Homo sapiens: one gene and its partners. The protein of the gene in region 4 interacts with the protein of the main gene of each other region in a pairwise test. Each region holds a gene or a part of one and is shown on either strand. Other genes may lie near its edges. The genes, in order: MTUS2, KRT15, AKAP9 and WAC.

The links.
Region 1: the proteins of WAC (region 4) and MTUS2 interact in binary tests that used the Homo sapiens proteins (3 or more experiments, as listed by UniProt).
Region 2: the proteins of WAC (region 4) and KRT15 interact in a two-hybrid assay, tested with the Homo sapiens proteins (4 studies listed by BioGRID and IntAct).
Region 3: the proteins of WAC (region 4) and AKAP9 interact in binary tests that used the Homo sapiens proteins (3 or more experiments, as listed by UniProt).

Annotation. Positions count from the first base shown.
Region 1 is NC_000013.11:28,816,223-28,824,331, forward strand, and holds the start of MTUS2 (microtubule-associated tumor suppressor candidate 2), read left to right. Parts: upstream 1-4,116; 5' UTR 4,117-4,389; intron 4,390-8,109. UniProt on the Homo sapiens protein: Binds microtubules. Together with MAPRE1 may target the microtubule depolymerase KIF2C to the plus-end of microtubules. May regulate the dynamics of microtubules at their growing distal tip.
Region 2 is NC_000017.11:41,515,531-41,523,398, forward strand, and holds the start of KRT15 (keratin, type I cytoskeletal 15), read right to left. Parts: upstream 3,361-7,868; 5' UTR 3,298-3,360; coding exon 2,800-3,297; intron 1,688-2,799; exon of another isoform or gene 1,636-1,687; coding exon 1,553-1,635; intron 1,435-1,552; coding exon 1,278-1,434; intron 757-1,277; coding exon of another isoform or gene 736-756; coding exon 574-735; intron 481-573; coding exon 355-480; intron 163-354; coding exon 1-162.
Region 3 is NC_000007.14:91,935,988-91,944,146, forward strand, and holds the start of AKAP9 (A-kinase anchor protein 9), read left to right. Parts: upstream 1-4,874; 5' UTR 4,875-5,112; coding exon 5,113-5,160; intron 5,161-8,159. UniProt on the Homo sapiens protein: Scaffolding protein that assembles several protein kinases and phosphatases on the centrosome and Golgi apparatus. Required to maintain the integrity of the Golgi apparatus. Required for microtubule nucleation at the cis-side of the Golgi apparatus.
Region 4 is NC_000010.11:28,535,769-28,543,761, reverse strand, and holds part of WAC (WW domain-containing adapter protein with coiled-coil), read right to left. Parts: intron 1-7,993.

The DNA of each region.
Region 1 (8,109 bases), on a different chromosome or scaffold from region 4:
ATATATATATATATATATATATATTTAATTCAAGAGAACATTCTACTCTTCCTTTCACAGCTTTTTTTTTTTTTAATTTAATTTGGCTGGGCGCGGTGGTTCATGCCTGTAATCCCAGTACTTTGGGAGGCTGAGGCGGGCGGATCACTTGGGGTCAGGAGTTCGAGAACAGCCTTGCCAACATGGTGAAAACCCATCTTAACTAAAAATACAAAAATTAGCCTGGATATGGTGGCATGCACCTGTAATCCCAGCTACTCGGGAGGCGGAGGCAGGATAATAACTTGAACCTGGAGGTGGAGGTTGTGGCGAGCTGAGATTGTGCCACTGCACTCCAGCCTGGGTGACAGAGTGAAACACCATCTCAAAAAAAATTAATTTTATTTTAGATTCAGGGGGTACATGTGCCTGTTTGTTACATGAGCATACTGGAGATTGGGCTTCTAGTGTACCCATTACCCAAACAGTGAACACTGTACCCCATAGGTAATTTTTCAGCTCTCGCCCCCTGCCCACCCTCCCCTCTTTTGGTGACCCAGTGTCTATTATTTCCATCTTTATGTCCATGTGTACTCATTGTTTAGCTCCCACTTATAAGTGAGAATGTGTGGTACTTGGTTTTCTGTTTCTGAATTACTTCACTTAGGATAATGGCCTCCAGCTCCAGCCCATGTCACTGCAAGAGACATGATTTCATTCTTTTTGATGGCTGCATAATATTCCATGATGCATTAATATATGGACCACATCTTCTTTATCCAGTCAACTGTTCATTGACATTCAGGTTGGCTCCATGATTTTGCCATTGTTCTTTTCACAGTTTCTAAATACAGCATAACCAACTGTTAAAATAAGACTTATCTTGGAATGCTGCCAGGTGGGCCAATAGATAACTATGACAGTTTGGGACCTCTGAAAAGCAGATGTCAAGATAGGATTAGATGTGCCAAAATATTTTAAAGAAAACACCTGTGCAGGATAGTGCAGGAGGGAGAAGGAGCCTGGCATGCAGGTGAGGAGTGCCTTCTGACTGCAATACAGGTCTGACACTTGTGAATGGAGAGAGGGAAGGGAAGAAGATTGGGTAGGAAGAGCTCCAGACTGCAGCACATTCTGAGAAAGCCCTGGTAGGGTGGTAGGAATTCCAGAGCAAAGACTGCCCACTAGAGGCAGAAAGGGCATAGCTCTAGCGCTCTCACCATGTTCCGTTGTGAGCTGGAAACAGCTGGGGAATGTGTGACCTTGGTATGAGCTCTGTGGTGGATCCAAATGTGTGACAGCTGAAGGCTGTCAGTTGCTCAAGCTTCCAAGATCTCAGGGGATCACCTCCCTCCATGCCACCACACAGATAGGTATCCCCACACATAAATCCATATAAATGGAGGTATTGGACCATCTTTGTAGGATTTGCTAAGTTGGGGTTCTGCCACCTTCAGACCAAATTGAAGGAAAGGAGAGAGCAATCAAGGGAGAAGATGAGAACGACACGGTGCTGACAGGGAGAAGGAGGACCCACCCACTTCATGCAAAGAAAGGCATGCTTCCAAAGAACTACTTGGAGAGCCTGGCATGTGTCACCTGGAGTGTGGGGACATGCATGAACCCAGAGATGGCTGAGAAGCTTCAAGGAAAGAGGCCGGTCAGAGTTACCTGTGACCAGAGAAGAAGAAAAGAGAACTGCAGTGACAGTGGCCTGCACTTCTATAGCGTGATGGGCCAAATGCCAGTTGGTGTCCGTGGGTCAGCACGCACGTGGTGGAAGGTAGCTGGGACTGACTGCCAGGGCATGGTGCCTTGCAGAGGGCCTGAATGAGGCTGACCACCAGTGAAGCTGAGGCTGAAGTTGCAGGGTCAGAACCCCACCCTGCCCAACTTGAGAAACCAGTGTTTTTTTTTTTTTTGAAACGGATCTCGCTCTGTCGCCAGGCTGGAGTGCAGTGGAGCGATCTCCGTGAACTGCAACCTCCACCTCCCGGGTTCAAGCGATTCTCCTGCCTCAGCCTCCGAGTAGAGGAGCCTAGAGGCATGTGGCACCATGTCCAGCTAAACTTTTTGTATTTTTCATAGAGACGGGGTTTCACCACGTTGGCCAGGATGGTCTCGATCTCTTGACCTCGTGATTCATCCACCTCGGCCTCCCAAAGTGCTGAGATTATAGGCGTGAGCCACCGCATCCGGCTTCTTTTTTTGACAGAGGCTTGCTCTGTCGCCCAGTTGGAGTGCAGTGGCATGATCTCGGCTCATTGCAACTTCCACCTCCCAGGTTCAAGCAATTCTCCTGAGGAGATGGAATTGCAGGTGCACGCCACCACACCCAGCTAATTTTTGTATTTTTAGTAGAGACAGGGTTTCACCATGTTGGCCAGGCTGGTCTCGAACTCCTGACCTCAAGTAATCCACCGGCCTCAGCCTCCCAAAGTGCTGGGATTACAAGCGTGAGCCTCCGTGCCCGGCGGTGGAACCCGTCTTCACAGAGCTAGCTGGGGAGAACACAGAAGCAGGAAGCGAAGGTCGTTTTCCTCCTCCTTGCAGGCTTCTGAGCTTGGGTCAGGTTGGGGTCTGGTGGGTGGTGGGAGGCTAGTGGGGAAGGCTTGAATGGATTGCGATTAAAGTTTTGATTTGGATTGGGCTGGACTTTTTATTATCAGCAAATCTGACTGTTTATGAACACCTGAAAGTGACAGGAAAAGCTATGAAATTTGCCCCAGATTCTTCCAGGGGAGAAGGGAGAGCTTCTGGAATAATTTTTAAAGACAGTGGTCTGAAAAAAAAAAGTGCCATTTCATGATTTCCCTTCACCAAGTAGTCCAGTTGGTTAAAAAAAAAAATTAACTGTCATAAAGTATTGGTTAACACAGTGGTTTGGAAAGACATCCCCTAAAAACAAAAAACGCCAACCTAAATAGTGCAAAGACCAGCAACATCGTTTCATCTTTATAATGGTAAATGTTTATTCCATTGCTGTTTGAATCAGTCTGCAGAAGTCCTCTGGTTTCGCTTGCCTTTTCAAACCTCCAGGTGCACCGCGTGAGGGAGTCTGAGCATTTCAGGTAGGACTGGAAAAAGGTCTTTGAGAAATCATTAATTAATCTATTTACCTTACCATAAGAGCAGTCAAGGCTCGCTGGAACCCCTCGGACAGTGGGGAGGCACATTTGGTGCTCATTAAACATAGAAATAAGCTTGCTTCTAGAAAGAAACGCCTGCCTTTTGCGCAAATCTTTTCAGAGACTGGCTTTGGGCTCCTATGAATCAGGCACCCTAGCGTCCTCCAAAGTTCTTCCCGATGCTGAACCCCAATGCCTCCTGCTGCGCCTAATTCGAAGCGGCTCCCTCTTCTGTTCTGAGCGGAAAACAGCGGAACCCATTCCTGGAGGCCTGCCCTGGAACGGCCAACTCATTCTTACTCCTTTCTCCTGGGGTCCGATGCTAGGGCACCACGGTGACCAGCCGCGCAGCGGGCAGCGGCCCGCGCCGCGCCCACCGCCTGCGGAGGCTGGGTCTGGGTCTGGGTCTGGGGCTGGAGCTGGGGCTGGGGCTGAGGCGGGAGCTGGGGCGGGGGCGGGGGCTGGGGCTGGGGCTGGGGCTGGGGCTGGGGCTGGGGCTGGGGCGGGCAGGCGCGCGCGCAGGAGCGGGCGCAGGGGCCGTCGGCAGAGGGCGCTACGGCTCCCGGCTGCGGAGCTGCGACGCGGGGCGCGGGGCGCGGAGCGCGGGCCGGGAGGAGGCGCCTGGGTCTCGGCGAGTGCGTCTCCGGGCGGCCGGGAGGGGGTGCGCGCATCAGCTGCCCCGCGCCGCCTACCGCTCGGGCCCGCTCGCCGCCCGGCCACTGTCACCGCGGACGGCACCTCGCGGGCGAGGCGCGCCGGCTGCGTGGCGCGCTGCGAAGGTTGGGCTGGGCGGCCGCCGGCCCCGCGGCTTCTCTTTGTCCAGGCGAGGCGGCTGGAGGAGCAGCCGCGGCCGCGGCGGAGCCGGGAGCGCCTGGGCGTCGTGCGGGCGGCTCCGGTCCCCGGCTGCGCCCCGGCCCTCGAGCGGGGGCGGCGGCCTGGGCGGTGCCTGCGCCGAGGTGAGTGCGGGGGCGCGGAGCGGAGCGCAGCCGCGGCGCGGGCGTGGGCGGGCAGAGGTGATAGCGAGCGCCGGCGGCTCCAGGTGCGGGGGCGCCCCTCGCGCTCCACCTGCGCCGCCGCCGCCGGCTCTCAGGGCAAGTTTATCTCCCCCCTTCTGCGGAAACCCTTGACCGCTTAGCGGAGTACAGACCTGTCGGTAAATAGAAAACTCGAGCTGGAGAGGAGGAGGAAGCAGCGTGGCGGAACCCGGCCCGAGATGAGCGTCTCCGTGAGGGCAGTGGTGGCCTCTTGGACATTACATCTTTCTTGGCTCTTTTTGACCCAGGTGAGCGAATCCTCTGCTGCGCGGTCCGGTGGGGTCGGCTGGCTCTGCTGCCGCCCTCTGGACCCGCCGGAGACAGGTGAGCGGAGTTGGGGAGCGCGCAGCCGGGCTCGGGGCAGCGCCGGGCTGGTTCGGCTTCTCGTCTCCAGAGCGCTGATGCTTCCTGCCCACATCACCTGCTCTGGCTTAGGGACTGCAGCTCTTTTGGCACCTTCGCTTGCTGCCAGGTTCAACACCCACTGCTTTAGAGGCGTTGGTAGGTTAGTTAAGGCGAGTTCTCCCCTACCCACCCCCAGCTTTGGATAATTTGGTCTGAGTCTTCGTCTTAATTTAGTATGAGTGTGTTATTTCCTTCAAGCTTTATAATGGTAAAGCAGTGAAGCGGCTTGCTACATCCATTTTTTTTTTTCATTCTGTGCCTGTGCACAGAAGGAATTACAGGCACACAAGTGATGTTACTACCATTCTATTTTAAATACAAACACGGAAAGAAGTACTCTTGGCAGGATACCAAAGGCGCCTGTACTCTCTGTTATATAAATGCTTAAAAAAATTTGCTCATTGGTAAAGTTATGTGTGATTACCAGAGCACCTAAGAAGAGAGTGTCATGCTTTTAGTTTACTTGGAGATAAGCAGTGGTCTTAGCTTGAGGTACCCTTTTAAGATAATATAGGACCCTATATTAAAAAAGTCATTAGGTATAATTGTAAAGCATTAAAAAATTGGTTTTGTAAAGTCTATTAGGAATTGGTGAGAATTCTTTGACTACTTATTGATAAAAAGATCCTACATGTATACTTTCTAGTTTTCAAACTATTGAATGATTTTATTTTTATCTCTGATGGAAACTTAGTAATTGTGAGTTGCCAGTTATTAAAGATGTGTCTCTCTTTCCCTTCCCTTTCCCCAGGCCCCAAAACCAGTACTCACATTTATGGCTATTTTTTTCAGGTAAAAATACAAAAGTAGAAAACATCAGATATACTGATGGCTGGGAACAGCCCTTGTCCCTCCTCCACCCAGTATTCTGTTCTAATTGGTCTGGGCTGATACCTTGATACCTGTAATGTTAAAAAGCTTTCCTGGTGATTCTAACGTGTAGCCAGGGGTGAGACCCATTGTGGAGCATTGTATTGTCACTTTCTGTAGCCTATGGTGTTGCTACAGTGGTTTAAGGTAAGTCAAAAATACGTTGTTAGAAACATGGGAAGAAAAAAATGGTATTGGAAAGGGGACACATCAGAGAATTACAGCATGTAGACTTTTGTGTTTTGTCTAAATGCTCTTTCTTGATTTTCCTGCGAAGAGTAGTTGATGTTTATTAGGGACCCATAATTCCATGTAGAATACTTACGGGAATCTTAAGTGATATATTTCATTTGCAGAAGTACCAATGAAAGTTGAGTAGTAGTGGCAGGATATTCATTTATGTTTACACGGTAAAGTAAGTCATAGGAAAGATTATTTTCCATATCAAATTAAAAACTTTTACTATAAACTAGTAAATTAAGTGCAAAAAGTTTTTATTGTTTTTAAGGTCAGAAAGAAACCTGGCCTCTGAGTCAGTGTTTTCTGTCTCCCTTATGTAATCCCAAATATCCAAATCTAGGAGCAGATCTTATGGATGGTTTATGAAGGCTTATGTAAGAGCTATGACTGTGCTTTTGGTACTCCATTAAACTCCCTGTTTGGGCTATTACATAATTGACACGGAACTAGACTGTTAAAGCCAAAATCCAGGAGGATGCCGAAACCCACTCCGGCATACGCACTTTTATAATGAATTGCTGTTGCCAAATTGGAGGGAACAGCAGGGATGGTGGTTTGTGAAAGAGAGGTAAGAATAGCATCTGGGGGATTGATGTAATAGAAGACTGTTATGCTTAGCGATTTTCTAGAGATTTGAATGCTGTGGCAGAAACCTCTCTAGTCCTTTCTATCTCCAGCAGAGGCAGATCGACTGGGGAGCTAATGAACCTAAGCCTCAGGTCCCTCCGTCACAGAGGCTTCTTTGGAGCCCTCTGGGAGGGGCACTGGCAGTGTGTTCATGTGGTCATCCCTGAGTTTGTATTTGTACTTTTGGATTTTTTTTTTAAATAAGGAGAGTACTCTTTCTATATTCCCACCCCCCAATTATATAAACCCAAGGTTCCACAGACCCTGAATCTATCCCTGTCTTCAAACCTGTGTTCAAGTATTAACTTATAAAATTGCCTATTCTTAGTTTAATTTTTGTCATCTGAAAAGATGAAAAAAATCTGTACAATATCATAGTTGACTTGCTGAGAAAATGCAAACTGCTATAACCTAGGGCTGTATAGAGCCACTGAAATCAGGCACATACCTGGAGAACTAGCTCTTTGCCTCGTGATCGCACACACATGGGATTGTTTTGGATCAGTGTGTGAGCTGGAGGTGGAGAAGAGTGGAAACGGGTTGGGGAAGGGAGGAAAGTGGGTTAAAGCTCTTCCTCCTCTCAGAGGCAGGATGCCAAGGGGAAAGGAAGGAAAACTATTGAAAGATGCTTCATTAATAAAATGTTAATAGGAACAGATAGCATCAGCTCCATAGGAGATCCTTCTGTAAGCTCAGGATTGGTCTCTAATACGAATTTTCAACAGTAAGCAAACAAACTCATTCCTCGAAAATATCCTACAGGAAACAAATGCAGGTTTGGAAGGACTAGATGAGTATCTGCTTGTTCCCATTAGCAGTTTTTATGAGCAAGTGGGAGGCTTATAATATCTACCACACACATGTTTGAAACGAGTTGTTGAAAAGAGTCAAGGAGTTTCCCCTTTTCTCTGAAATGATTTCTACTTCCTATGTGAATTTGGATGCCTTTAGATCTTATCATCTTGACCCTTCCCACCAACGGGTATACCTTGTCTATCAATTACCCATCCATCAGTCATCTATCTACCATCCACCCACCCATCCACAGAGACTCTCTTTTTGACCAAACTTTAGTCAGGCTCCCCTGAGCCCTCTTCTCAACTGGGCCTCAACCTTGGCCCGTAAGAACTGCAGCTTTCAACACAAACAATTTTGTCTGTGCTCCCACCCTCCAACGGATTTGAAAACACTGTAGCATGGTGTATTAGCCTGTTCTCACCTTGCTGATAAAGACATACCCAAGACTGGGTAATATATAAAGGAAAGAGGTTTAATTGACTCATATAGTTCAGCATGGCTGGGGAGGCCTCAGGAAACATAGAATCACGGTGGAAGGGGAAGCAAACACGTCCTTCTTCACATGGCAGCAGGAGAGAAAAATGAGCAAAAGGGGGAAAAACACCGTATAAAACCAGCAGATTTCATGAGAACTTACTGTCGCGAGAACAACATGAGGGTAGTTCCCCCATGATTAAATTACCTCCCACCTAGTCCCTCTCATGACACATGGGGATTATGGGAATTATAATTCATGATGACATTTGGGTGGGGACACAGCCAAACCATATAACATGGCATCTAGCAGCCTAAGGCCATGTGTCTGGGATCACCCAGCCTCACTTGCATTCCTACCTAGAAAAGCTCAAGGCTGCCCCAAAGAATTTATCTTTTGTTCTAGCCCACACAAATGATAATAGGCCCCTGACTTTCATTTTGTTAGATCGTTTATTAAAAACTTACAATTGTAATTCTTTCTCTGTGCCTTTGAGATATATGTGTATCTCCTACCACCTGGAGTGTCTTCCTCAGTGTCTGTGAGCCATTCC
Region 2 (7,868 bases), on a different chromosome or scaffold from region 4:
CTTTATGTCAAGCAGCATCTTGTACTCCTGGTTCTGAGCCTCCATCTCGCATCGGAGCTCACTCAGCTGGGCCTCCAGGCCACCAATGAGCCCCTGGATCTGCTGCAGCTGCGTGGCATAGCGGCACTCTGTCTCGGCCAGTGAGTTCTCCAGCCCAGCTTTCTGGGGGAGTGACAGATGCATAGACACATCAGGCTAGAAAGGAAGCCACTGAGGGCAAGCAGGGAGGGGGCACTGAATGGAGTTCAGGGAACCACCTCTTGAGGGGGCTTGAGAACTCCAAGGCTTAAATAGCCAGGAAGAGTGGGAGCTTCTACCACCCGAGAGGCTGGGATGGGGCGCGAGTGGCCGTACCATGCTGAGCTGGGACTGCAGCTCGATCTCCAGCTCCTGCATCGTGCGTCTCAGGTCTGTGATCTCCGTCTTGCTGGTCTGGATCATTTCTGTGTTGGAGGCCACCTCTTTGTTCAGCTCCTCAGTCTGTAGGTCATGCACAACAGAAGTGAGCCCCGGGGCCTCCTCGGAGACTCAGGGACCTGGGGCAGGAAGGGCAGGGCAGGATATAAGGCCCACCTTGCTGAAGAACCAGGCCTCGACATCCCGGCGGTTCTTCTCCGCCATGGCCTCGTACTGCTCCCTCATCTCTGCCAGCACACGGGTCAGGTCCACACCCGGTGCTGCGTCCATCTCCACATTGACCTGGCCGGCCAGCTGGCTGCTGAACTCCTTCATCTCCTGCAGGATGGGAGGGACCCACTTAGAGACGGAGAGCAGAAGAGAGACCTGAGAGTCTGGCGTCACACATGCCAATCCTGGCTCTGCCCGTAACACACCCCAACCGCTGTTCCCCATTGCACATGAAGAGGTTTGGTCACATGGACCCCTCAGCTCTAAGGAGTTCTCTGCTGCTCTAGGTCCTACCAAGGGAGGACCCCGAGACTGTAGGGCCCTGATGTGAGCTCACAAAGCCAATCAGGAAGTCAACCATTCATACGGGCCACCTGGGCTGGCTGTGGGCCTGGGCTACCAGACACTGCCCCTTCCTCTCCATGAGGACACCTGGTTTTGTGGGGTAGGTGTGTTTCTGAACCACTAAGCCCCAGGCCAACTATGAGGAAGTACCAACAGCCCCACTCTGCCTCCCACTGACTTAATCTCGTGAAAATCTGGGAGGGCTTCCTGGAGCCACTGTCTTTCCCTCTGGGCAATTTAAGTGAGTTTTGGGAAGAGGTTCCCCACCTCTCTCGGGTTCAGGGGTGATGGGGGCCAGCTCTCACCTCTTCGTGGTTCTTCTTCAGGTAGGCTAGCTCCTCATTCAGGCCCTCGATCTGCATCTCCAGGTCAGTCCTGGCCAGGGTCAGCTCATCCAGGACTCGGCGCAAGCCGTTGATGTCAGCCTCAACGCCCTGGCGCAGGGCCAGCTCATTCTCATACCTGAGGAGAGGGAGGCCAAAGAAGGAAGTGGGAGGGGTCTTGGCTGCCTGAGTCAGAGCCAGGAGAAGGCCAAGTAAAGTGGGCAATGCAGGAAGAGGAGAGAGACGGGGGAGCGCACTTGAGCCTGAAGTCGTCCGCAGCCAGCCTGGCATTGTCGATCTCCAGGATGACCCGGGAGTTGTCGATGGTGGTGGCCATGATCTGCAGGAGACAGAGTCGGTGTCTAGAGGACTCCTCTCTCTCCCCTGCTGCTCTCTGCTCTGCACCCAAGGCCAGCCCCTCATTGAAAATCACCCCTCACTGACAATCACCCCTCTGACACCACCAACAAAAATCTGTACGGCTTCTGGGGTGGGCAAAGTCCAGCCTCACTTTCAGTGTCCATTTCTTGTTTTGTCCCATCCAGCCTCCTTGAGACACCTGAGGAGCTGCCTTCCTTATCTCCAGGGCACGAAAGACCAAGGAGGCAGTATTGCCTGTGGGAATTGGTTGCCCAGGAGAGTGGGGCAGTGGGGTGCAGCCAGCTCTGACAATAGCTCTCTCAGAGACACTCCACCAGCCCCACTGTGGACAACTCATGGTCACTGCCTCCTGCACACCTTGGACACAGCCATGGATCTACAGAACATTCCAGCCAGTAGCAACCTGGAGGGCAGTTAAGAAGGCATTTTACGAATGAGGAACCCAGTCTTAGGGAGTAAAATGGTGAGTGAGTGGGTGGCAGAATGTGTAATGAGTTCCCAGGTCTCCTAAGACCCAACAGTACTTTTGGCACAAAAGACCTCTTTATAGGAAAAGACAAGAGGTTCTAGCATCTGGAACTCATGAGGCCACACTCCAATCCCATTCTTGCAAAAGAGGTAAAGGAATACTTTATGCAGAAGCCTGCAGGGTGCATGAGGTAGGGAGGGCGAGTTGCTCTTTTTTTTTAATTATTTTTATTTAATTAGATACAGGTTCCACTCTGTCACCTAGGCCGGAGTGCAGTGGCACAGTCATAGCTCACTGCAGCCTCTAAATCCTGGACACGAGCAATCCTATCACCTTGGCCCCCCAAAGCACTGGGATTACAGGTGTGAGCTACTGCCTCTGGCTCTTTATAATTGCCCCCACCTGTGCCCCTGTTGGTCCTAACCAGATTCCCAAGACCCCTCTCTCCCTCCCCCAGCACCACCAAGTTGAGAAGATGTGCACTGGCCTCTGCACCTGGACAGCAGGTGCATTCCAAATTTGCTGAGATTACATACCAGACAGTCATTGCCTGGGCAGGAAAGGATTTCCTTGAGTCAGCAGTAACACTGACATTAGAGCTGTGTACAGGGTACCAGCCACCTGCTCCCCTCTCTTTGACATCCGAGGACTCACCTTGTCCCGGAGCTCTTCAATGGTCTTGAAGTATTGGCTGTAGTCGCATTCTGGGCTGGTTGGGGTCTGCTTCTGGTACCAGTCATGGATCTTCACCTCCAGGTCAGCATTGGCCTCCTCCAGGGCACGTACCTTGTCCAGGTAGGAGGCCAGGCGGTCATTGAGGTTCTGCATGGTAATTTTCTCATTGCCAGAGAGGAGACCACCATCGCCACCACCAAAGCCACCACCAAAACCCCCACCAACGCCCCCTCCAAAGCCTCCACCGAAAACACTACCAGCCCCTCCACCAAAGCCACAGACCCTCATGCCACCCCCATATCCTCCTCCTGACCCTGAAGAGACAAACCTAGCAGAAGAAGCTGAGATACTTCGGCTTCCACCTCCCCCAGAGAGACTCCCCCCACCAAAGCCACCTCCCCCAGCCAGGAGGGAACCCCCTCGGGTTGAGCCACCCCCAAAGGTGGAGGAAGAAGTTTGCAGAAATGTGGTGGTCATGGCCAGGTAGCTGGAGCCCGTGAGTTCTCAGCAAACCCAAGAGATGCTGGCAGGAGGTACCAGGCCAGGCTGCACGCTGGGGCTCCTTATATACCCTTCAGAGGGTGTTGTGGGACCTCGTCTCCTCCCCTAAAGCAAAGCCAACTCCTTCTGCCTTCCTGACAAACACAGCTGCCTGCACACCTTGAGTGGGTCATGTGAAGTTTTTCTCTTCTATTTTTTTTTAATGCAACAAAAGAGATGATTCAGAATTAATAGTGTTTTTCCCCAGGGCACGGTTTTAACACTTGGATTACAGGTTCATCTCTCCATGCCAGAAGAGAGCAGCAGGGAGCGAACTCTCATCACAGCACAGCTACCAAGGCCTCTGCCTGTACTGAGAGCAGCTCAGGCCAACTGTGCCCTCAGCTGGACTTCACTTCCCCGAGCCCTGAGCCTCTCCCCAAGAGGACAGCTCCGTGTTCTTAGTTTGGGAGTCCACTGGCCGATCATTATGCTGTGTTATCCAACTCAAAACCCTGTGAGTGAGTGAGTGAGTGAATGAGTGAGTGAGTGAGTGAGTGAGAGACTGCAGGGCTCAGGGAGAGTGGAGGCCCTGGGGATGGGAATGCAGGGCCCCTGGGGGCAGGTGGAGGACAGGAGCCAGGGACCTTGAGTAGTGTTCCAGCTGAGGTGACCAGAGGAGCCAGCATCCATCCCCTTACCTGGTGCTGCAGATGGACTCCCCTCCTCCCACCTCTACTCCCCTCCTGCCATCCTCCAGCCTGTGTTCCTGGCACCCTCACAAAAGCCCAGCAGGCTTGGGACTGACAAGGGGATGACTGATGATCCCGACACCTGCCAACTGCACGGCGCTGAACCTTTGCTCGTTTCTGGGATGTGTTGGGGCAAACCTCCGCTGATAAGGCTGGGGCAAGTTCCAGGAAGCCCCTGCCTTCTCCAGGAGAGGCATGTCGCTGCTTAGCAGGGCCAGATTAGCCCCCATCTGTCCTGTCAAGTGCTGGCTGGGGACGGGCCGCTGCAGAAGGCTCTATGTGCCTGAATGCTGTGGAAGGGAAGAGAAGGGAGACTGGCAGGCAGGCTGGAAGACACCGGAGATCTTGAAGACCAAGGCATTGCTTCACACAGACGGGGAGTTGAACACTCAGGAGAGCCCTTTTCTCTGCCACCAGCTCAGGGACACCTTTCCAGGGACACCTGATACCTGTGGGCAGTGCCACTTGGAGGTGTGGCTCAGCCCTCTGGACCTGGCCCCAGGGCTTACAGAAACTCAGGAGGAGGATTCCTAGCCCAGGTTGCAGCATGGTGAAGTGGACAGGGCTCTGGAGTCCCTCAGGCCCGGGTTTGAATCCTGGCTTTATCAATTATCATGGTAAGACTGTGAGGCCTGGGTTCAAATCCTGACCCTACCAATTACCATGGTAAGACTGTGGACATTTACCTTTTTAAGTCTCTGTTTCCCTGTGGCAAGGGGCGCTCTCAACTCTCACTTCCAGGGAAGCCCTGTGGCCCAAGAGCCCCCATCCTGCCCCCTCCTGGATCCCCACCCAGGTGCCAGACATGCAGGGGCCAGGGTGCATGACCGGCACCTGCGCCTGAGTGCCCTCACCAGGAGGGGCTTTGTCGTTGGGCATCAGAACATGCCCTGTGAGCCTGAGCATGTTCTTAGGCTCAACGGCATCGACCTTCCATAGCCAGCTCCTATGGGGCAACGCAGGTTGTTCTTAGGTTCTTATTTTGCTATAATAGCATAATCCTTTACTTCTACCCTGCACTTTGTGATTTACAAAGCACTTTTGCATCCATCACCTCCTCTCATCCTCACAACAGAGGGTGACCCCCACCCAAGATTCAGAAAGAATGAAATTGAAACTTGGAGAGGTGAAGCAACTTGTGCCAGGTGGCACCACTGGTAAGGGGCAAAGCCAGGACTCAAACAGGTCCTCACACCCTCAACCAAACAGGGCACAGGGAAAGAGTCCTTCCTGCAGACCCCAAATTCCTGCATCTGAGCTGGGCTGGCAAGGGGAACTGCCAGCCAGCAAGGCTGGGGGTGGGTTCCTTCTCATCCATCTTCGCAGTGAGCCTGGCCTCCAATGCTGGGCACAGACAGTGTGGTATTGTCTCATGGGTGGGAGGGTATTGTCTTTTCCTCCGAAAGAAAAATAATCAAACTCAGATCATCCAGAGCTCATTAAAAGCCTCTGCAGACATTGTGGCCCCAGCAATTAACTCAAGAACAATTACTCGCCTTTCACCCCAGGGTGAGGAAGGGCTGGACCCCAGCCAGATCCCCTTCTGCACCTGACTCTCCTCCAGCAGCCCCTCGAGGTGGCTTTCTCTATACTCTCAGGCCCAGGCCAGGGGCGGCAGCTGCCCCCCTCACTGCCCCACGCACAAATCCCTGGTTTCAGTCCAAACCGCTACTGTGAGCTCCAGATCTGGGTGGGGCCCGGAGCCTCCTCATTAGCACCAGGTGGGATGGCCTTGCGAAGATAAAGCTCTGTCTGGCCCCAGCCCAGGCTGTAGCCCCGGGCCCTGCCCCAGGCAGCCTGCCCAGGATGCTGTGCCAGTTTCTGACCTTTGCCCACTGCAGCCAGATGGGGCCATCTGTGGAGCTGGCCTTTTCTCCTTAGAATGAGGCAGTGCAGCCCAGTGGAAAGAGACTCAGCCTCTCTGAGCCTGGTTCCTGATTTAAACTTAGGCCATTAACACAGACTCCCCTCAGGGCCATAGTGAGCATTTGAGGGCACAAGGAGAATGAAGTCTCCAACAACCTTAGAACCCTCCCACACCTCTCCTGTTCCCCAGGGAAATGCCAGGGAGAGGGGGTGTGTCCTGGAGCCCAGAGACTTACCTTTAAACCCCTCTTTTCCCATTTACCAGCTGTGCGGCTTTGGGTAATGCCGCCTCCTCTCTCTGAGCCTTAGTCTACCAATCAGGAAAATGGAAATAACTCCAGCTCAGCCTGACTCTCAGTTGGAGCAAGATGACTCACAGGAAATGCTCAACAGACTGAAGTGGCCACGATGACCAGCAGGATGTAAAGGCACTCCCCTCAACTTCCCCACTCCCCTCTCCCTCCTATCCCAGGTCTCCAGGCTGAGACAGAAAAGTGTCCCCAGTCCAGCCCCACCCTGCACTGTGCACACACAAAGGCAGGCTTCATTCCTGACACTCAGGCCTGAGACCTGACAGTCACCTGCCCCACCTGTGTGGGCCCAGACCCCGCCCCGCAGCCACATTCCAGGGGCCCCTGAGGCAGAGGGAAGGTTTCAGCTGTGACAAGGGAGGCTTTCATGGGCAGGGACAAGCGCCTCTGGGCAGTCCCAGCTGGGGGTGCAGCCAGGCCTCTCCCTCCAGCTCCAAGGCTTCCTGAGAAGTTAAGTTGGGGGTGGTGGTTTGTGGGTGCTGGAGGCCAGAACAGGACAGCTAGGGAGGGGGCAGAAGGGGGTCCCAGTCCAGGCTACAGCAGCGGGGCTCTGGGGTTACATGTTCATAACCAACCTTGAAACAGCTCCTCCTTCGGGATTGCCATGGCCGTGATGGGGTCTCCAGCCTCCTTAGCAGGGTGCTGAGTACATTTGGCAGCATGCGGGCGTGGAACTAGTGTCCCTCACTTGCCCCCATCACTCATAGGGTTGGGCCTGCAGCCCTCACCTCTCCACCAGGAAGAAGTGGGACTTCTTTTGGGGCCTCTTCCTTACCTTGAATTGGCCTCAGTTCTTGGCAGCTGAGATGTAAACCACAGGAGCAGGGCCATACCTACCCAAGGGCAGAGTTGTACCAGGAAGCTGGGACTTCGTTCTTTTGCTGGCCCAGGGCAGGCCCCAGGCAAGCCAGGGTTGGGGTCTCTGTGGGAGGTCTGGGTCACTGCTGGGTCCCATTCTGGGCTCTGGGCCCAGGTATGGGCTGGTGGGCGTTAAAGGGCTTATGCAGGGCTGCCCCAAAAATGGGTGAATGTGTTAGTGCATGCACACACACAACACACACTGACAGGTACAGCCTCCCCAGCCTTGCTCCAAGCGGGATGCCTGGCCCCAAACCCCCAGTTTCAGTGAGGTGGAGAAATGTGTCGGGAGGAACTGCCCCTAGGGATCCCCGGCCTGAGCCTTCATAGGGCACAAGACTGGAATGTCAGCAAGACCGGCACAAGTGGCGTCAACTCCAGGAGACCACCTGGCAGGGGCTGGCACCATGGGCTAAGAATCAGGCAACTTAGGTTCTAGTCCTGGCTCTACCATGTAGTTGCTGTGTGGCCTTGGACAAGTTACTGAACCTCTCTGAGCCTATTTCCTGATCTATAACATGCAGCTCATACTACCTTTTAGGGCTGTTTTTAATTCAATGGCACATAGTAGGTGTTCAATAAACATTAATTTCACACAGATACCTCAACGCCCTGGGGAGTAGAGTAGAAAGAAAACTAAATCTAGAAGCAAAAACAATTTCAAATCCCACCTTTGCCATGCATTAGAGCAGTTACATATAGAAAAAAACACTTCACCTCTCTGAGCCTTAGTTTACTTTTGTAAAATGGAAGCAATGCTTATTTCATGAGGTTATTTTAA
Region 3 (8,159 bases), on a different chromosome or scaffold from region 4:
CAGAATCTAAGGAATTGCTTTAATTGCTGCTGCAGCTTTTGTGAGGTCAAGGTTTAAGTGATATGTATTGGTGACTAAAATGAAATGACTGATAGGTTGTACCTGACTAATTTGTGAAAGATCAAATAACATGGAAATGACAACACATCCTGGGAGTAGGGTGGTGGGGTGGTGGAGAAAGCTCAAAATATTTAACTACAGTATTAGAACAATCTTGTTTGCTGATTCACATAGGTATCCTACATACACTAGTTTGCTATCTTACCAATGAAGAACTAGTACCATTCAAGTGGAAAATATAAAAAGTATCTTTAGAAATCTTGAATTTAGGCCTGGCACGGTGGTTCGCACCTGTAATCTCAGCACTTTGGGAGGCCAAGAAGGGTGTATTGCTTGAGCTCAGGAGTTCAAGACCAGCCTGGGCAACGTAGGGAGATCCCATCTCTACAAAAAAATTTTAAAAATTAGCCAGGTGTGGTGGTATGCACCTATAGTACCTGCTACTCAGGAGCCTGAGGTGGGAGGATCAATTGAGCCTGGAGGGTTGAAGCTGCAGTGAGCCGTGATCGTGCTACTGCACTCCACCCTGGGCGACAGAGTGAGAACCTGTCTTAAAAAAAAAAAATCTTGTATTTAATCTCTCAGGGGAAATGAGTGTTGTGCGGTATTCTTACTATTGGAAGGCACATCAACACTAAAAGAAATGTAGCTTAATTAAATCATGAATTTTACAGATGTTATAAACAGAATCACTAGAATGTAACCCCAATAGAGGAGACCAATTAGATTTTATTTCCCTTTTCAATTCTGGTCCATTGGACATGACTGCCAGAGGCTCTTTATTGAGAAGGATACTGAAGCAGTGCTTGCACTCATTTGGAAATAATTAATGATTGATTTACAGTGCCTTCTATGGAAGCCTCCAGTGACCTTCACCTTGCTATATCCAATCCTCATTTTACGTGACCTATTAGTAGCAGTTGTCTTGGTTCATCACTCCCTCCTCCTTCACTTTCTTCGCTTGGCTACTGATTCCTTTCACATATCTAGCCACTGTTCTCAGTCTCATTTGCAGATTCTGCTCACCTTGCCTCCCTCTTAGAGTTGAAGTATTCCAAAACTCAGTCTTTGTAACACCTTTCTATCTAAACTTGCTCCTTAAAGCAGCATGGTCCAATAGAAAAATAATGTGAGCCACAAATGCAAGCCACATATGTAATTTGAAACTTTGTAGTAACTTCATTTAAAAAAAAAAGAAACTGGTGAAATTAATATATATTTTATTAAACCCAATAGGTCCCAAATATAATCATTTTAATAATATAAAAATAGTGCAATATTTTGTTATTTTATTTTAATATTAAGTCTTCCAAATCCAAAGTGTTACACTTACAGCACATCTCAATTCAGACTAGCTAATAGCTGTTGTATTGAATAGCATGGCCCTAGATTATCTCATCCAATTCCTTAACTTAAAATACCATCTACATCCTGAATACTGACTACTCTCACATTTCTATTTCTAGCTTGGACCTGTCTCCTGAATCCAGACTAACTGATGTCTTAGGGTGACATCAGTTCTTGGATGCCTAATGTGTATGTCTAAATTACCATGTCCAAAACTGAACACTTGGTCCCCAGATTTTCTCTTCTCCATTTTGGTTACTGGCAACTTCATCACTTCAGTTGCTCAAGCCAAAAATGTTGGAGTCAACCTTGACTTTTCTTTTTGTCTCAAACCTCATATCCAATATACAACTCCTATGATACTATTGGTTCTATGTTCAAAAGATATCCAGAATCTGATTCCATATCTTTTCCTCCACTACAGTACTATGGCCCAAATTCCCATTATCTGGGATTACTGAAATAACATCCAAACTGATCCCCCTTTCTCCTCATAGCAGCCAAATGTCCGTGAACAACATAAGCCAAATCATGTCATTCATCTGCTCAAAATTCTCCAATGGCTCCTAATCTTACCCAGAGTAAAAGCTGAAGTCCTTACAATGACCTTTAGAACTCTACAGGATCTGAAGCCGGGCATGGTGGATCACCTGTAACCCCAGCACTTTGGGAGGCTGAGGCGGGCGGATTGCTTGAGCTCAGGAGTTTCAGACCAGCCTGGGCAACATGGTGAAACCCTGCCTCTACAAAAAATACAAAAATAAGCTGGCTATGGCAGAGTGCGCCTGTGGCCCCAGCTACTCAGGAGGCTGACGTGGGAGGATTGCTTGAGCCCGGGAGGTTGCAGTGAGCCAAGATTGGGCCACTGCATTCAGCCTGGGTGACACAGTGAGGCTCCGTTTAAAAAAGAAAGAAAGAAAGAAAGAAAAGAACTCTACAGGATCTGGCCCCCTGTTACTTTTCTGACTTCATCTCCTACTATTTCCCTTGTTTATTCCACTCTAGCCACCCTCACCTCCTACTCTTCCTTGAGAAGGTCCATCATGGTCTCGCTTGAGGGCCTTTCTTTGGATTTGCTGTACCCTCAACTATCTCCGTGGCTCTCTACCCCCACCCACCACCTGCTTGTTTTTTGGGACAGTGTCACCTGTTGTCTAGGTCCTTACTCTAGAGTGCAGTGGCACAATCTGGGCTCACTGCTTTGGCCTCCCGGCCTCAAGTGATCCTCCCGCCTCAGGCTCTGGAGTAGCTAGGACTACAGGCTCCCGCCACCACACCCAGTATTTTATTTTTATTTATTTATTTATTTATTTTGTAGAGACAGGGTTTCGTCATGTTGCCCAGGCTGGTTTCGAACTCCTGAGCTTAAGCGATCCACCCCGCTCAGCCTCCCAAAGTGCTGGGATTACAGGCGTGCACCACCCCGCCCAGCCTCCTCATCTCTTTCAAGTCTTTGCTGAAATATCTTCTGAAAGAATCACCTGAGTAAGTGAATGACATGACATGAATTAATGATTGGTATGACAAGTTATGACAGAATAGGTGCCATAAGGAAGAGTCAGAACACTAGTGCCCAATGCTTGCTCTTCTAATAGAAGTTAACACAAATCTAACTTTCAACATTGATTGAGCACCCATTATGTAAACTAGACATGTATATGATTGGCTGCTATCAGTGAAGGAAACATTGAAATAATCTTGTTGCTTTGGAAGGTATTCTTGAACATTCTCAGCACCTACAAACAGCTGACTTATTTAGTCACCGAGAAAGCAGTATCCTTTAACAAACAGGAATAGCTTTGGATACCCTGGGGCTTCCCCCTCCTAGGCAATCAGCATCTACACTCATAATCCCTCAATCCAGGCAGTATTTAAATCACTGCACTATTAGAACACTTAGTTCTAGTCCTTACTCTTAATTTGATGGGTGACTAAGTAAATCACTTATTGCCTCAATTCTTTCATCCCTATGATAAAATGTCTAATTTTACCTGGTTCCTAATTCAGGTTGAGATAACAGGACAATATGCACTTGGCTGTTAGAAGTTGGCAGAATGTATGCATTACGGAGCTTAAGAAAAAAATCTTTTTTAAAGCTAAGATTTCTAAATGAGGGCTATTTAAAACTCATCTTCAGTTTGTGGTAGACTTAAGGTCTTTATTATCTCCTTTTTTGTTTTTTAACCTCAATTTTTCACTTAACACCACTTCTACGCTTGAACTCATTTTAGCCTATTTTTTGTTCACAACTGCTAGTTTTTCAGTCCAACCTAGCTCAAAGCAACGGAGAAACATGATAAATCTGAGTAATCAACCAGAGACATTAAAATGTGTAGTTCACTCCAGGAATGGATGTGAGCATTGGAGGGCAGGGAGACGAACACAAAGGACTGAGGGAGCACATGTCGGGGAAACAAGGAAAGATAGTAATGTTAAATTTATAAACACTGCTCAATTCAATCCAAAAAGCGTTTATTGAGTGCAGAGCTCTGTGCTGGTCATTTTAGTAAAGCCAAGATGAGCAAGACTTATGATGAGTCTCTGTCATCAAGGAGCTGGGAGTATGAGCTGAACTAAGACGCACACAAATTATTAAAATATGGTGCAGGGTACTTAAAGGAAGTCCAAGGAGAAATAAAGCTGACATTATTCAGGACGTTTTAATATGTCAGGGCAGTCACATATATTAACAACCCTTCCAAAAATTCCAGGTAGGCTCAGGGAGGATAGGTAACTTGTCATTAACGCTAGAAAGTTAGTGTAGTCTGGCATTGTCCCTAACCGAGGTTCTAAAGCTCAGGCTCCTTTCAGAACACTACTGTTAAAGGGAAGCCCCAAAGAGTCGGGGGAGGGGACTAAGTTTTGACTGGATGTGTCTCGGTTGCCGTGGAGGGAACAAGAGGTCAGAAAAGCCATTTGGAGGCAGCGTGTGCGATGGGACTATAAGGATGAACCGGAGATTGAGTGGGAACCAGTGGAGGGAAGAGGGAGGGACTTTTCAGGCTAAGGAAGTAATAAGAGCAATTAGCTGCTCTCATAATTCTTGAGTCAAGCAGTTAATGTAGGTAGAAAACCTGGCGTCCGCCCCCCCACCACCCCCCACCGGAACTTTTCCGTTGGAGCTTGTAGGTGTTCGCCAATTTCACCATTAGGTGTGTTAGTTTTGTAACCTGAAGGAAAAAAAAAACTCATGTTTTAATAGCAGTGGATTCCTCGGACGGAGGGTGGGGGTCAGGCCAGGAGCCTCTGGCACACTCCGTCTCTCCTACCCCTCAGCTCGGCCGCCACCTGTGAGCCGTTGATGTGCGGGAAGGGCGCTCTCTACGGCGGGATCCTCGCTGGTAGGAGGCAGGTCCCAGGCCTGGCAAGGGTTGACCCCGGAGGGCTGGGCCGGGGCGGCACCCCAGGAGCACCTGCCCACGAGGCGGCTGCGCGGACAGACGTTCCAGCCCCTCCCGCCTCGCCGTGTGTTTACGTGGAGACGAAGATGGCGGCGGCGGCGGCGGTGACGGCGCTTCCCGTGCGGCTGAGGACGATCCGCCAGTGAGCGCGGAGACTGCTTCCACTTCGGGCGGGGGAGCGCCGGACCGAATCGGCTCTCTAGGCCGTGGAGCTTGCCGTCCCACCTCCGTCCAAATCGACCTTTCCTTTCTATCCCCAACCACCCCTCAACCCCTGTTTTCCCCTGCCTTCCTTGCAGAGGCCATGGAGGACGAGGAGAGACAGAAGAAGCTGGAGGCCGGCAAAGCCAAGGTAGGAGAGCCCGAGGCAACCGGGCCTGCGGTGGGAGGCGGTGGCTAGCACGGGGTGGGAGGGGGCCTGGGAAGCGGAGTTCGCCGCAGCCCCAGTGCACTGCCCGAGAGGGAGGTGCTGCAGGGTCTTAGGGTCTGCATCTCTCCTCGCCCTCCTCCTTTCCCCTTTTTCCAGTTGGGGGACAAAGCCTTGTGCTAGCTGATAATACTTCCGCGAGGATTGAATATTGTGGCTCCTTTCTCGTGAATGTCCAAATAAAACTCCCCTTTTACTGTATTGCTGTAAACTAGTGTTTAGTTGCTTCTAAACCTCCGATCTTTCATTTTTTTAAGGAGTTTTCTGGGTGGTGCAGGCATTGTGCTTTCCAGGGTGGGGATTTAGGGCTTTTCTTTATTGGGTTGGGGATTTGTGCGCTGATCATCAGCTTGTCTTCCTTAGGTAGCACGCTGGCACTCTTGGGTGTGTGTGATTGGCCTGTGACAGCTGTCTCAGCAGTGGCTTGTGTGTGCCACAAGTGCCAGCTGTGAACTTGGCTTTAGGGGCGTTTTTAGAAGCGTGTCTTTGTATGTTTGTACTTGAAGGTCTTTGTCATGGCATGCGCTTTTGTGTCCTATGGAATGTTAATGCAGTCTGTGAATGGAACTTCTGAGGACCGAAAGGTTCCATATGCCAACACCTATAGAATTCCTGCTTTAAATAATTTAGTTGTTATATATCTCTCTGGCGAATCCTGGTTGTGTGTGTGTGTGTGTGTGTGTGTGTGTGAACGGTTATGGAAAAGCCTGTAAAGCAAACAATACAATACACAATTATACACAGGCATCGTTCATTGGGCTTCATGAGAAATTTAACATATACAGAATATAAGCTGCGTAGCATATTTCTTTTAAAAATTACATATTTGAGCATATATTTTGTCTGGGCTCAAAAGCCCCCTTCCTCCCTTCAATGAAGTCTTCTTTTATGGATTATATTATTTTTAGAGATAATTGTTAGCAGTCATACTTGGACAAAAATTGTATTACAGGTAACTGTTTTTCCTCTCTTCCTTTCTCTTCTCCTCACATAAACAAAGGAAACCAGGTTAGTGATTTATTATCAATGAAGGGCCATACCGCAGAGATGCAGTGATAGAAGCTCAACACAAGTTTGTTAAATGAATATATATATAAAAACTAGCTTCATATTTCTAAAATATAGTTGACTTTCCTATAAGCTCCCTCTATTTAAGATCAAGGTTTAAATGCTTGTATATAGCCAGGTAAATTTTTACTTTCGAATCTATAAATGGTGGGAAAGGGGAATCAGGGTATCTTTAGAAGTCCAAAGCCTACACTTGTGCAATCTGAGGGGCTGAGCAAGCTCTATGCATCTACGGAAGTAGTGGAGGTGAAGTGTGTGCCCCTCCAAAAGCATTGAAGATCTGATTAGATGTCTTACTTGTCTGTTACCTCACAATTTTTATTGCCTGCCCCCAGAAATGTCTTTCCTGAATATATGTGAAGCAGTCCTACAAAACATGGTTTACTTTGGACATACACATTTCATAATAGAGGATTTATTTAAATTGCTTGCAGTTGTAGTTGATGTGGCAAAATACAATTCTAGTTTCTTTGTGTGTTTCTTTATCTTTCAGAATTCTATGTATGGGGTAAAAACCTGTTTAAGGTGAATTTTTGTTGTAAAAGATTATCTTCTTTTAGAATTTAGCCCTTTTTCCAGTAAGATATAAATCTATGAGACTTGTAAGGCAAGGTGTGTTTGCTGCAACATTAGCTATACAATATAAAAATGCTGACATTGGGAGCCTGGGGCGAGAGGATTGCTTGACACCAGGAGTTCAAGACCAACCTGGGCAACATAGTGAGACTCTACAAAAAATTAAATAAAAAAAAAAAATAGCAGGGCATGGTGGTGTGCGCCTGTATGTAGTCCTAGCTACTCAGGAGTCTGAGGTGGGAGGATCACTTGAGCCCAGGAGTTCGAGGCTGCAGTGAGCTATCATCATGCTACTGCACTCCAGCCTGGGCAACAGAATGAGATCCTGTTTCAGAAAACAAACAAACAAAAAAAAACCCCTGGAAATAACTTTTAAAGACAACACGAAGGGAATCATTTTCTAAGTTATATAAATATGATGGAATATTTTAAAGCCATTAAGATTATGAAGACTGATAGGAATATGAAAAATAGTGTGAAAAGGGCATTATCAAAAATAGTATGTACATTATTTCATTTGTATAAACGTGTGCTTTCAGATTAGAACTGAAAAACTCTGGATTATAATTTTATTCAGCAAACGTATATTGAATCCCTATTTTATACCTAGAGGTGGTGACAGTGTCTGCTCTCAAGTTGCTCACTGTTTAGTGGGAGAGACAGACTCTGGGTGATAAGTACAAAGAGGGATGAGCTGCAGTAGGATTTGGGGGATATTCTTCCACGTTTTGTTAAAGTGTTTTAAATACTACTATGTCATTTTATAGAATTACTAAGAAAGCTTTACTATTGATATTAATGCACCATAATATAATGCCTTTCAAATAGTTATTCATACATATTTGCTTAATGAATGAACAGAATGATTAATGAGTCATTAATAAGTGTTACTTTCCTAGCACGGTTGTAATTTAATAACATTAATCTAGAATTCTCTTAATGTGAAATCCATATTGCTGGCATCAGAAACAACTTTAAATGATCATTTTCCAAAGTTTATCTGAGACTTCATTCTGCAAATGTCTCATTTGTTCACTGGACTTAAGTATTGTATTTGATAATCTAGTTTTGCAAACCACAACTTACAAATCTTTTTGGGGGTAATTTATTGATAAACAGTTCCATTGGAAAATTCCCTTTCTGTATCTAAACCTTATAAATGATCACTTTTTAAACAGTTTGTCATGTATGCAGTATAATATATAGTATACTGTATAAAATGTTTTATACTACCCCAAATCTGTAATAATGGGTTAATAAATTATGATATGTAAAATAAT
Region 4 (7,993 bases):
TGACTTTCTTTTTCCCCTTTTCTCTGCATTTCCTAATTTTTCTACAATGAGCGTGTACTAACAAAATTTTAGTACAAGAAGCACTATATAGCTCAAGGACCCATTAACTCCAATCTTGCTTTGCATAAATATGGCATTTCAGAAGTCAAGCATACAAAATACTTTCCTTAGAGAAATAAAAATATATGTAAAAGCCAGACAGGCCAACAGGGCGATCACATTCCTCAGAACCGCATTGTCCAATTCAATAACCATCATTCACATGTGGCAATTAAACACATGAAATGTGGCTTGTCCAAACTGAAATGTGCTGTAAATGTTAAATAGACACTAGGTTTCAAAGATCTTGTACCAAAAAGGGAATGTAAAGTATGTCATTATAGTTTTTAAGGTATCAATTACAAGTTGAAATATTTTTGATATATTAGGTCAAATAAAATATACTAAAATTGAATCATTTTTAGTTTTTAAGCAAAGCTACTAGAAAAGTACACATATGGTTTGCATTTGTGGCCAACATATTTCCACTGGACGGTGCTGCTATAGAACCTTGTTACTCTAGTGAAGTGTAGGTATCACCCGAGATCTTGTTAAAAGGCAGATCTTTGGGACCCACCCCAGAATTACTGACTATAGTATCTCCAGGTGCTTAGTATACACATTCAAGTTTGAGGAATGCTAATCCAAAATACTATAATTTCATTCCCCTTAAATTATAACAATCCAAATTTTTTTTATCTATCCATTTAGTTAAATGCTATAAAGTTTCAGGCACTATTCAAGGTAACAGGAATACAAGGTGGATAAAAACATTAAAACTCTCACTTCCTCTTCTGGTGGAGCTTATATTCCACAAAAGGCAAGCAAACAAAAACTAAAATACAGTCAGTTCTGCTATAACATTTGTTTCCAAATAGACAAATTTGTTTGAAGGCTACTGATCTATCAGAAACCAGCAAATTTCCCACTTATGTGTATTTTCACCTGTGAGAAACACTAGCTACATCAAGCTGCACAGGAATTTACAAGGCAGACACAGCTCAAACATCTAATAGCTATCTTAGTTCATCATGAATTATGAGTCAGGTCCATCCACATTTGATGTTACAAGTTTTTGTCTCGTATCAGGTATCTTCCATCCATCACTTTACAGTAATTCATGAACTGCAACCCTTCCAATGAGTGGCCACTTTCACAAGAAGTCAGGTTTTGGTCAAGGTAAAGTGCCATTTATTGCGGTGTTATTCTTTAACCATTTTATACGTGTAAAACTAAGTTACAATTTTTATTAGGTTCCTATCTTTTTAAAATGTGTCACTGACAATGTTTTTGGTTACTGTGCTCCTAACTCCATTTTCCCCATAAATTGGTCTGGTGCAATGTTGCACAGCACCGTGACTTTCAGAAATGCCCATGTCATGTTATAGCAGAATGACTATAAGTAAATCATAACAGGTCACCTTCATACAAGGAAGGAACACGCAGGGGCAAGGAAAGACAATGATGAGAATGACTGTTTCAGAGTGTTCAGCAAGGGCAGAGAAGGCCCTGTGAGAGGGTGACACTTAAGCAGACACATTACTGAAGTGAGTGAGCACAGTAGGAGAAACATAAAGGCACATAATGTGCAGAGCCCCTGAGACAGGAACAAACTTCTGCCTGCAGGGCCAGTATGGAGAGAGTAGCACAAACAAGGGGAAGATAGTAGAAGAGGCTGAAAAAATACCCAGACACCAGATTACACAGGATCTATTATAAGATTTGCTAAGAAACAGGGAGTCACTGGAGGGCCGTGAGCTTGAGAGAGATGTGAGGTGACTGGCATTTTAACTGGATCACTCTGGCTACTGTGTGGGGAAACAATCATACAAAGCAAAATGGACTCGGGAACACTAGGGGGCTCTTGCAGAATTCAAGCTAAGAAAAGGTGGTAGCCAGAACTAAAATGATAAAATAGTGAGAATTAGTTATACTTGGAGTATAATTTGAAGGCAGAGATAAAATTTTATGTGAAGAGACTTCCTTTCCAGTTTCAACAACAGTAGGCTAAATACTTTATAATTTCATCAGTACAACAGGAATAATACTGATCAGCCTATTTCAAAGAGCTACTGTGGAGTCAGATGAGAAACAATATAGAAACCCTTTGAAAATTATAAAGCATCATACAAATCCTGAAAAGGACTGTTCATAGAATATATTTGCAAGCCCCAAATAACCAAATAACTGATTTTGCCAGGGGGTGGAGGTTGCAATGAGGTGAGATCGAGATCGTGCCACTGCACTCCAGCCTAGGTACAGAGTGAGACTGTCTTAAAAAAAAAAAAAAAAAAAAAAAAAACAAAACACACACACACACAACCCCACAAAAATTGGTTTTGTAATTATCAAATTGACAATGAGTTATATCTAGTGCCTGGTATAGCATCCCAAATGCCCAGCTTATTTCCATCTTCACTCTTTCCAGCATCATAACAAAATGATGCACTACCCCCCAAACAATTCTGCACAACAGAATAAGGTAACAGATGCTTAATAGACACAAATTAGAATATATAAATTTTCTGTGAATTACAGACCAAAACCCCAAGTATGTTACACCAAAAATTTTAAATACTTCCTGCACAACTAGAAAACAGTTCAATTAAGACTGTCTTAAGGATCTAAGGATCTAAGTGAACTCATTCCAAAATACTGATTGTAAAATAGAAATACCATTAAATTATAAACAATACATAATAACCATCTCTCTAAAAATATAAAAAGTTAAAATGTGATTATGAGAAGCGTAAGACAAATGACTTGGTACTAGTGTTCAAATTTAACAATTTACATGCACAGATGCTTACATCACAGACACTGTTTTCTAAAATTAAAAAAAAAACAATGAAGAGTTGAAACATTAAGACTGCTACTCCTTCAATCTTATTCCACTTCTCTTGAAACAGAGTATGTTTCCTGTGTTTTCTAAATTGACCAATGGAAATCCAATGCAAACATTTCTGCATAGTATTATCACAAAGCATAAATCAATGAAAAAAGGTCATGTGTCACTATTTTTACTAGACAAAAAATACTTAACATCAGTCAAACGTATTATTAAAATCCAAACGTTAGTGTATTATATTCTATGCAATGTTTCCACTTCGTAAACAAGTCTTTAAATATGAGGGATTAAGAGAAAATGGACTTTTCCTAGTGAAATCTGTGTCATGCTTCCATGTCAAAACTTATTTTTGAAAATAAAACACTGATGTGATAACTGCGCCTAGAACTACACAAATACATCTTATCAAGGTACTATAATTTGGCAAGTTGTAACCACTGAGGGAAGAAGGGTGAAGATATTAGCAGGATAAAAGCAAAAATGCCTTCAAACTAATTCATGCCATAGTAACCACCACCAAATAAGCTTTCAATACCCAAGTGTTTAATCTCTGACAGCATACAAGTTACCGAAGTTAGAGAACTAGTTTCTAGACTGAGCTGTTGCTCTCTGTTCAATTTTATTAAATTTTCCCTCATTTGTAAAACTGGAAATAAGGATACTATCTGTTGTCTTCCAAAGTTAACATGAGTATCAAAAGCGACTGTTAATTTGTATACTTACTTTCTATACAACATTTCTAATGTTAGTAATTTGTAACATTACTAACTCAAAGCATATTTCAAAGTCATCTAAACAACGGTAAGACCATGTTGCTCAACTGCCAGTCTATTATTCAATGTGAAAGACTCAAACGTTACTAAATTATATTAAAAAAAGACATTATCACCAAATAATCCCTACTAATTCCTTCAAAATGTTAATAGTAACTTTTATTTGAAAGTTAGGGAGATGAAAATACATTTCCAAATTTTTCCAAAGATATAGCTAAATGACAAAATAAAAACTTCACTATGGGCCAGGCGCGGTGACTCACGCCTGTAATCCTAGCACTTTGGGAGGCCGAGGCAGGTGGATCACTTGAGAGCAGGAGATTGAGACCAGCCTGGCCAACTTGGTGAAACCCTATTTCTACTAAAAATACAAAAATTAGCCGGGCATGATGGCGTATGTTTGTAATCCCAGCTACTTGGGACATTAAGGCAGAAGGATCGCTTGAACTCAGGAGGCAGAGGTTACAGCGAGCCAGGATCACACCACTGCACTCCAGCCTGGGCAACTCTGTCTCCAGAAAAAAAAAAACCAAAAAACAAACCCTAACGATTGTACCTTAAGGTTTTTGCTTTTGGTTACTTTAAACAAGATTGTATGTTTTCAGACAGATCACAGACTATATAAAAATAACTCATTTCACAAAAAAATATTTTAATTATACTCTCACATAACCTATCTTAAATTTACAATAGACATTATTTCCTTTAATAAATCCTAATGGATAAAATCTCTAACTCTAAACTATACACGCTATGTTACAGCAAGTCTTATTTTAACTAGCAAGGTTTTTGGGAATAAAAACCTTCACAATCCCTGATTTCTCACTTTTTATATTGTATCTGCAAGTCCTTTCATACATTACTTCTGAACGAGCATTTTTCAATGAAATCCAAGATGCTAAGAAATCTAGTAATTACTGAAAAATGCTGTGATGCCAGTAAAGCCTAATCCTAAGGTAAACAAACGCACAAGTTCCACATTTAACTTGCTTTGTAAAATGCAAGTTACAAATCATAGCATATAGGTTATTATTAGTAAAGAAAATCATTAAATCTTAAAATGAAAAACTGGGAAATTTGAATTCAGTAGTTCAATGCATATAGTAAGTAACCTGCTGTAATCTTAAGTTTTTTACATGCTTAGAGCTTAGATAATCCAACTCACTTGCATTTGATTTTTGATAATGGTCTTGAATTTATATACATTAATTTTTTTCTTTTTTTTTTTTTTTTTTAAACAGACGGGTCTCACTCTATCAACCCAGGTTAGAGTGTGGTGGCACAACCACAGCTCACTGTTAACCTCAAACTCCTGGGCTCAAGCAATCATCCCACCACACCCAGCTAATCAAAAAAAAAATTTTTTTTTTTTTTAGTAGACACAGGGTCTTGCTATGTTGCCAAGGCTAGTCTCAAACTCCTGGCTTCAAAGGACCTTCCCATCTCAACCTCCCAAGCAACCAGCATTACAGAGATGAGCAGCTGTGCCTGGCTGAATTCTTTTTTTTTTTTTTTTTTTTGAGACAGGGTCTCAATCCGTCTCCCAGGCTGGAGTGCAATGGCACAATCTCAGCTCACTGCAACCTCCACCTCCTGGGTTCAAGTGATTTTCCTGCCTCAGCCTCCCTAGTAGTTGGGATTACAGGCACTCGCCACCGCAACCAGCTAACTTTTGTATTTGTAGTAGAGACAGGGTTTCACCACGTTGGCCAGGCTGGTCTCAAACTCCTGACCTCAGGTGATCTGCCTGCCTCGGCCTCCCAAAGTGCTGAGATTCCGGCGTGAGCCACTGACCCGGCCTGAATTCATTTTTGGATAAAAATCCAAAGGAGTTTATAATGCCTGCAATAAAAATCATACATATACACTTTTAACATCTTAGTGCCAAACACATCATTAGCAATAAAAAATAAACACCAGAAAACAAATTATAATGACTAAATATCTCACTATAAAATGAGGAAAAATCACCATTTTACGTTTTTTGAAGAGAGAATATCAAAGATGTACTCTCAATTCCAGAATGGAGATATACCTCATATTATTATTTCCATATAATATAAAGGAATATGGCAGCCAGGTATGTTAGAGATGGTAGAGACAGGAATGGAATCACAGTATTAGCTGGAAGACTCCAGAAGACGACAATCAGCTAGAAAGAAAATTGGAAAGTGGGGCCTAACTTAGCAAGTGATTAGATCAGAAAAACATCAAGTTTCTTGCAAATGAAGCTAAAGAAACATCAGGAAAGATGCAAATTTTTAAAAACGAAAAGCTAACAAGTACCTGGAGTTCATACAGGTAGAAAAATGAAAAAATCAAAGTGAAGAAAAAATGGGTACAGAAAAAGTAAGTGGCTAAAACACCACTAGCTCTCAAGAGTCAAAGCATTTAAGAATAGCTTCAAGGCCAGGATCACATCTTGACTCCCAGGAGTATCACACAAATGTTGGCACACAGTAGATGCCCCAGGTTTGTTGAATGAATAAGCAACAGAATGTTCTTGGGATTACTTCACCTGTAAAAGAATTGGCTGAGCAAGGTTTGCTGGAAATGATTGAAAGCATTTATAACTGAAAAACTGACTTCTTGCATTTGGGGATAAACTGGATCATAGTCACTAAAATAAGAGCCTATTTGTAAGAAGATGAGGTGCCATATCCTATTTTGTTACAATCACCAAATTTTTCAAAATAAATACAGTATAGTACAACCAGTACCTGCTCTCCAAGAGCTAACATTAGAAATGAAATCCACTATAGAAGAGTGGTTGATAGAGAGTACCATCTCAGGCTTTACATAATACTATGGAAAACTTACCCACAAAACTGATAACTCTAAAAGCTTAATTTTGCAACCCAATAACTTGTAACACTTTAATAATCAAATACACCTGCTACTACTGTTACAAAAATGTGGTTTATCTGCATAAATAGCACTAAGCTATAACTACATTCAATAGAGAACTACTTTCTTCTCATCCAAATTATTCAATCCCAGTGCAATCTTCTGACTGTATTTTCTCAAACCAGTAATTATGTAGAGGAAGCCAATGTTTCTCAGTATATGATCACACTGAATAAAGCTGATTTCTATCCTAGGTGGACAAAAGGGGCAAGATGCAAGGTATTTTTTTTAAAGTAAGCCAAGTATTGAAGAACTAGCTGCCAATAGGGGCAAAAAGTCACATGGTACTTTACTGAGTTTCCTTGGAAGCTTTTAATATTGTAAATCTGCTTAAGATATGTTATCTACTTAAGCAACATGTAGGAGAGAATATAGGTGTCTTTACTGAAATTGCTTTGTTCCTTAATGCATGCTTTTGACATGAAATGTAATTCGGGCAAATTAAGTCTGAAAATAGTTACTGAGAATTGGTTTTGTTTACTTATTCTCAGACTCCTACCACAAAGAGCTTGAGGCAAACTTATAATTGAAGGTACAGGACTGTGCAAAAGAAATCAGACTAACTTTTAAAAAGAATATTTCAATGAACCAGGTATAAAAATCACATCACCAAAACTGGAGAATACTGAAAATGTTTACAACAAAAAGCAAGAATGTATTTTCTAAGTCATAAATAATTTTTTAAATCTGGGAACTATCCTGAAAAAACATAATGAGTTTTTAAATTCATAGTTTATCATTGTAATTAGAAAACAGATTTGAACACCTTAAAAAGTAACAAACTGAAGCAACAATAAGGATCTCAAACTGAAATCTTTAAAAGGTCAAAGTTCCTTTCTTGGAAAAAAGTCCTGCATTTTTCCCATCCTTAAGAAAGCATGTTTTAAACTATATTCATAAATGCATTCCCTTATTATTAAACACTAAAGTCCGCTTTTTTTTTTTTTTTAATGGAGTCTCACTCTAGCACCCAGGCTGGAGTGCAGTGGCACCATCTCAGGCTGACTGCAACCTCCACCAACCAGGTTCAAGTGATTCTCCTACCTTAGCTTCCTGAAGAGCTGGCACTACAGGCGCCTGCCACCACCACCATGCCCAACTAACTTTTGTATTTTTAGTAGAGATGGGTTTTCACCTGCTGGCCAGGCTGGTCTTGAACTCCTGACCTCAGGTGATCTGCCCGCCTCGGCCTCCCAAGTGCTGAGATTACAGGCGTGAGCCACCGCGCCTGGCCTTAAGAGTCCACTTTTTAGATGCTCACATCAGCATCTTGTTTCTACAGTAACTTGTTCAGAGTAAAAAAAAAATGATAGGATTAAAATATTTTAATGACATAACTGAACAGTAACTTCTTCAAGCTAGAAATACTACTGCCGCCTTTTATATAGAGCTATTGTTAAAACTGTATGTCAAAGTTTCAACAAGA